Linked DNA regions of Homo sapiens. The protein of the gene in region 2 purifies or fractionates together with the protein of the main gene of each other region. This does not show direct contact. Each region holds a gene or a part of one and is shown on either strand. Other genes may lie near its edges.

The links. The genes of interacting proteins can lie anywhere in the genome.
Region 1: the proteins of SLC45A1 (region 2) and SLCO4C1 purify together in Homo sapiens (affinity purification with mass spectrometry; one large-scale study listed by BioGRID and IntAct). This does not show direct contact.

Annotation. Positions count from the first base shown.
Region 1 is NC_000005.10:102,247,785-102,251,284, forward strand, and holds part of SLCO4C1 (solute carrier organic anion transporter family member 4C1), read right to left. Parts: intron 2,005-3,500; coding exon 1,854-2,004; intron 1-1,853. UniProt on the Homo sapiens protein: Mediates the transport of organic anions such as steroids (estrone 3-sulfate, chenodeoxycholate, glycocholate) and thyroid hormones (3,3',5-triiodo-L-thyronine (T3), L-thyroxine (T4)), in the kidney.
Region 2 is NC_000001.11:8,338,614-8,342,113, reverse strand, and holds part of SLC45A1 (proton-associated sugar transporter A), read right to left. Parts: intron 2,622-3,500; coding exon 2,416-2,621; intron 1-2,415. UniProt on the Homo sapiens protein: Proton-associated glucose transporter in the brain.

The sequences.
Region 1 (3,500 bases), on a different chromosome or scaffold from region 2:
ATCTCAACTCCATCCTTCCATATCCTTTATCCTTACTATAAATCTTTTTTAGACATTAAGGCCTCAACGAATCAGAGCAGAGCCAGAGAAATCAAAGAGAAGCAGTGCTTTCATTGTTCCAAAGGCCAGAAACTTTTTTTTTTTTTTTTTTTTTTTTGGTGCTAAAGCCATTCTAAGACCACTGGTACCAATTCAGGAAAACCAAATATGCAGATGACACCTCCAAAATTGACTATTACATATTCAGCAATCAGATATATCAAATAATGAGGTAATTCAGCCTTTAAAAATTTTAAGGAGAGAAACTGAGAACAGTATTTTCTATCCTAATGAAACTTTACCACTCTCATTTGCCTGCAATATAGCAGTTAGTCAAGGTCAGATTTTGTAGTTTGGGTCACTGGTGTGAAATATAAGATTAAAACTGTATTGCTGTGAACAAATGTATATGGGTGCTTATTAAAAGTATTATAAATGTATATTGCCTATCTGAAATATTTCATAAGAAAAATATTGTGGATCAATTGATTATTTCATGGACTGATTGGACATAAAAAAGTCAGGACAAATAGAAAATTTGCAAGTCAAAATCATTTGCTCTTCCTAAAAAATTCTAGAAGACAACTTGCTGTGTAAGATAGTAATTATCTTAGCATTTGGTGAAAAATATAAATATTAAATTAACCATATCGAAATAACAAAAACTATTTTAAGTATGCTCTGGGTATTAGATTTTCTGTGTTGTTCCCTTGTGCAGGATGGTATTTGTGTCTATATATATTTAGTTATGTGACTAAAACCCTTCCTAATAACTCCTTGTCATAATCTGCTTCTAATCAAAGTTAGTCAATAGCATTTATTGGTCATATATACAGAAAAAAATTCAAATATTCAAAATTGTCATATAACTCTTACACATCTTATTCATTGTTTTCTTTTATACCACAGTATATATTTCCCTTAGATCCTTTTAAAGTTATCACATTATCTACCAATGCATACTATACTGCGTACTACTCATAATCTGAATATTATTTATTTCCAAGGTTCTTAAGTTTAGCTAAGATGAAATATTTAGTTTCTAAGATATAGTACAGTAAAATTGTACTGAGTTCTTTTAAACTATTTAACTGTACAGAAAAGAAATAACATCTAGGCACACTGATTAGTATTCAGATCCAGAATTAAATATGAATTTGTATTTAAAAATAAATTGATTTGAATATTTTAAGTGTATTCATGGTATATCAAATAAAACAAATACTAAGTTTCTATTATATAAACTGTACCTAGTGAAAATAGGAAAACTCTCTTGCCTTCAAAGATCTTAAATAGTTAGGGAAAAATAAAATTGACCCTTGAACAACACAGGTTTGAACTGCACTGCTCCACTTACATGCGGATTTTTTTTTTCAGCTAAACATGGATCAAAAATACAGTATTCGCAGGATGCAAAACCCATATATACTGAGGTGCTGACTTAAAGCGAGTTCTTCAAGGCCATCGGCAGGACTTAAGTATGGCATATTTGGGTATATGCAGGGGTCCGGGAACCCATCCCCCATGTATTGTGAGGGATGACTATAAAACAATTTGAAAAGGTAAAAGATATTTCATAACTGCAACAAAGTGATGTTACTAAAATGTTTGTAACTTCCAAATTGATTTTTCAACAATAACTGCAAGAGGCATGAAGGAAAAAGAATCTATTTCAGCTGGAGACATCATGGGCTGCTTAACGGAGGCAATGGAGCAGGAAGGCAAGAATAGGCATTGCATAACCCCATTAGAGAAGTCAAGATAATCCACAAACATATTGCCTCATTAAGGGAAAAGTAGGAGACATAAGCTACCTTTGGCTTCCTGTGTGCAACTGGGTTTGAACAGCCTGCAAAGCAGGGAGAAAAATATTGGACTCCATCTCCACAGACAGGATAATAATATGATCGCGAACAGTTACAATTGGCATTACAAGGGGCTATCAAGTTTCCCAATTCTCCAGTCCTGTAAATAAGAAATGAAAGAAGGGTAAATGATCTGTCATAACTTTTAACTAACAATTTCGAAGCACTGTTATATCTTACCATTAGGTCATTTATTCACTCACTCAACACATAATTACTAAACAAATAAAACGTCTTCCTTTGCACATAAAGTTTAACTTCTTGTCGGAGAGAGGCAATAAAAACAATAGTCATATAGTATAGTATCTGTCAGTAATTTAAAATAAAAGGCAGAATAAGTGAAGAAGACAAGAGTTTCCCATCTGGCACCAGGTAATTCTCTTGTGGGGTTGGTTCTATGGACTATAGAATGTTTAGCAGCTTCTCTGACTTCCACCAGATACCAGTAGCACTCTCCTTCATTACAGCAACCAAAATATCTCCATACAGTGCCAAATATGTCCAGGATGCAGACAATATTTTAAACTTGGAAGGATGAACAAAATCATGCTGTTGAACATAATCATCTCATCAATGGGAAAACTGAGGTCCAGGGAGATTAAGTTACTTTTCTTTCCTTACCAAATATAATTTTCCCAGTCCCCAGGCTCAGTGTCATTGCAAGCTGCCTCTTAGAGAAAACATCTTCCCTAATATAAAGGGTTACACTAATCAAAAATGCATCCCTTATACCTCATTTATTTATTCATTCAAACAACATATATTGAGCAACTGCTAGACCCTATGCTGGGTAACGGGAATACAAAGCCGAATAAGACAGTCTCTGCCCTCAAGGATTTCACAGTTTAGAAGTAGAGAGGGACTTAGATAATTATTCAGTAATATGCTAAGTGTGGTTACAGATATCAGCAAAGTGCCTTTTAGAAGCACCAAGGAAGGACACCTAACACAAGCCAAAGTTTAGAGAAAAGGGGCTGGAGGAGCTACTGCCTGAGATGCGATTTAAAAAATGAGTAAGAGGCTGGTGCGGTGGCTTACACCTGTAATCCCAGCACTTTGGGATGCCAAAGCGGGTGGATCACTTGAGGTCAGGAATTTGAGACCAGCCTGGCCAACATGATGAAACTCATCTCTACTAAAAATACAAAAATTAGCTGGGCATGGTGGCAGGCACCTGTAGTCCCAGTTCTCGGGAGGCTGAGGCAGGAGAATCTCTTGAACCCACGAGGCAGACGTTTCAATGAGCCAAGATTGCGCCACTGCACTCCAGCCTGGGCAACAGAGTGAGACTCCATACAAAAAAAATCGTAAAAAATATATAAAGAATGAGTACAAGTAAGCCAGTCAAATGGGGAAGGGGAAACGTACTTCAGAAAAAGCTGGTACAAAGGCATAGGGTAGAGAAACAGCATCCTCTGTGGAGAAATATGAATGATGTCTGAGGCACAGAGTGATGGGAAATGTAGCTGGACAGGAGTAAAGGACCAGTTTAATTGAGAGCCACATGGGCCTGACAAAAGGTAATCGTTAAGGTATTTTTAGAATGGAAAGTGACACTGTCAAAAGTTCGTTTTAAAGAAGTAATTCTAGGAGTTG
Region 2 (3,500 bases):
TGCCTCAGCCTCCAGAGTAGCTGGGACTACAGGCGCCCGCCACCACGCCCGGCTAATTTTTTGTATTTTTAGTAGAGAAGGGGCTTCACTGTGTTAGCCAGGATGGTCTCGATCTCCTGACCTCGTGATCCACCCTCCTTGGCCTCCCAAAGTGCTGGGATTACAGGCGTGAGCCACCGCACCCGGCCTATTTATTTATTTACATAGCCACTGTCACCCAGGCTGGAGTGCAGTGGTGCAATCTTGGCTCAGTGCAACCTCCGCCTCCCAGGTTCAAGCCATTCTCCTGCTTCAGCCTCCCAAGTAGCTGGAATTATGGGCACGGGCCACCATGCCTGGCTAATTTTTGTATTTTAGTAGACATGGTTTCGTCATGTTGGCCAGGCTGATCTTGAACTCTTGACCTCAAGTGATCCATCTGCCTCGGCCTCCCAAAGTGCTGGGATTACGGGCGTGAGCTACTGCGTTTGGCCTTTTAAATGCCATTTTTCCTTTTGCCTCAGACTCCAATATGAGGTGGCTCAGCACTGTTACTGATCCTTTTTTTTTTTTTTTCAAAGTATTACTATCTTTTTTTTTGAGACGGAGTCTCGCTCTGTCGCCCAGGCTGGAGTGCAGTGGTGCGATCTTGGCTCACTGCAAGCTCCGCCTCCCAGATTCACGCCATTCTCCTGCCTCAGCCTCCCGTGTAGCTGGGACTATAGGCGTCCGCCACCACGCCTGGCTAATTTTTGTATTTTTAGTAGAGATGGGGTTTCACCATGTTGGCCAGGCTGGTCTTGAACTCCTGACCTCAGGTAATCCGCCCGCCTCAGCCTCCCAAAGTGCTGAGATTACAGGCGTGAGCCACCGCACCCGGCTGTGAAGTGAAATTTCTATTCATTGTCCCTCTTACTCTTTTTTTTTTTTTTTTTGAAACGGAGTCTTGCTCTGTCGCCCAGGCTGGAGTGCGGTGGCACCATCTCGCCATCTCGGCTCACTGCAACCTCCGCCTCCCAGATTCAAGCGATTCTCCTGCCTCAGCCTCCCGAGTAGCTGGGACTAGAGGCACGCGCCACCATGCCCAGCTAATCTTTTGTATTTTTAGTAGAGATGGGGTTTCACTGTGTTAGCCAGGATGGTCTCAATCTCCTGACCTCGTGATCCACCCACCTCAGCCTCCTAAGTACCTGGGACTACAGGTGTGAGCCACCACGCCCGGACCCCTCTCTTACTCTTAATTTATGCCTGATTATTTTTCTTTATGCTAAATCCATAATCCGTAACGAGATTTCAGCTGTCCTTTTCTAAAGGACGGGTACCATATCCTTTTAATCTGCTTGATAAGGTACTCAGGCCTGTCCAAATAATGAAATGGTTTCGTTGTTATTAAGCCATGCCCAGTATTTGGGCAAAACCAACATCTAATAAATTACACTGTCACCTAATACCCACGGTTGATGGGAAGCCATGAGGAACAAGGGGAGGTGATAAAACCGGCAGGTGGATCAAGGAATAAAAGCCAAGAGAAATCTGAGACCAGAGGGCAAGAAACGTCTAGTCAGGATTCAAGGACAGAACTGAAGTTCCCACAGAAAAAGGATCAGGAGCTGAGCTGGCTATCAGAACCCCTAGTACATGGTGAACTGATCCTCTCTTTATTTAAAATTTTGGGCTGGGTGCGGTGGCTCACGCCTGTAATCCCAGCACTTTGGGAGGCTGAGGCGGGCGGATCATGAGGTCAAGAGATTGAGACCAGCCTGACCAACATGGTGAAACCCCGTCTCTACTAAAAATACAAAAAATTAGCTGGGCATGGTGGTGCGTGCCTGTAGTCCCAGTTACTCGGGAGGCTGAGGCAGGAGGACCACTTGAACCCGGGAGGCGGAGGTTGCAGTGAGCCGAGATCGCACCACTACACTCCAGCACAGGCATCAGAGCAAGACTCCATCTCAAAAAAAAAAAAAAAGAAAGAAAGAAAGATGTTTTTGTTCTCCATGGATTTTTGGCAAGAATTCTGATTTTTAAAAATACTGCATTAACATGTTATCGATCTGGATTGCTGAGTTTTCCGAGCTTCACTGCCTCCCCATAAGCCCCACCCTGAATGGCTGGGACAGGCATCAACAGGAGACCCGGTGGCCTGACAATGGAGTAGGAAGGGGCAGCCTCCCATTCCCCACATCCCTGGGAAGGACAGAGCCTGACCCAGAGCCTGGGTGGGCTGGAGGCTTCTGCTAATGAAGCAATGAGGGGATTACAGGCAGGGGGCACGCCCCAGACTCAGAAGGGCCCCCCTTGGTTTCATGCTCTGTGGTCGCTGTCTTGACATTTTGCACCGGGCTCTGCAGATTGTGCAGCTGGTCCTGGGGGACAGTTCTCAGGTGGGGTTTCTCCAAGAAGCAGACCCGAAGCAAGACAAGGGAGAGCACTTACCTTCTTACTCTGATAGTAATCGCAGAGCAGCGAGTAAGGCAAGGTGCACAGGGTGGAAAATAAAATCCCGTAGGTTATGCAGAGCGACAGGACCACGTAGAGGTTCCTGGAGAGGGTGGCAAGCCCGGTCCCCAGGCCGAAGGCGAGATAGGCGATGAAGTAGAGGGTGCGGACGCTGAGGAACTCCTCCAGCTTCTCCAGGATAGCTGCGGGCCACAGAGAGGGTGAGCAGTGCCACACGGCCAGAGCCTCCGGGGATTCAGCTTCCAGTGCCACCTCCCGGCGGCTGACCTGAAGCTAGCAGTGGTGGGACCCGGCTTGGCAGGTCACTTGCCCCAGACCAGAAAGTACTTCCTGGGGAACCCAGGGGAGCTGAGAGACCACCCCAGTAATTCTGGTGGGTGCCCAGGACAGGGCTGTCTGGATAGATGGCAGGACCAGGGTGTCCTGTTCACACTGGCCCGGGCCAGGTCCCCCAGGGCTTCTGCAGGTGGAGGGGTCTTGGGGCTGTGACACCAAAGGGGCTCAGGGACTGAGGGTCTCGAGTTAAACCTCTGTGTTCTTGTGTAATTGTGGGTACAACAGCAGCCCATCCCGTAGCCAGCCACCATCTTTACACCCCCAAGATGATGTGACAGCATGGATGTCAGCGACGGGGCTCCCTAGAATCAGATAAAATGGGGCCAGTTCCCCACGCCCCAAGGCCACATGGCTATGGGGGAACCCAACACCCGAGGTGCCACCCCATGGACTCACAAGTGAGATCTGACAAATTTCTTCTTGCCGCAGCCCCTCAGTGACCCTCTACTTTGGGGCTTGAACCCACAAAGATGGGGGCAACTAAAATAAAGCAGTTGGCAGATTATGGATCGAAGGCGAAGTCCAGCCTGCAGCCTAGTTTTGTAAATTTAAAAAAAAAATTAATTTAAAAAACCAAAAAAAGATGAATATTTTGTGACACGTGAAAATCACATGAAACTCGTATTTCAGCGAACACAGTGCGGTTTGATTGGCGCTTGGCACGCCCACTCGGTTTCCCGTGTCTGTGGCTTTCGGTGAGGGGCTGCAACAGAGACCGCTGGGCC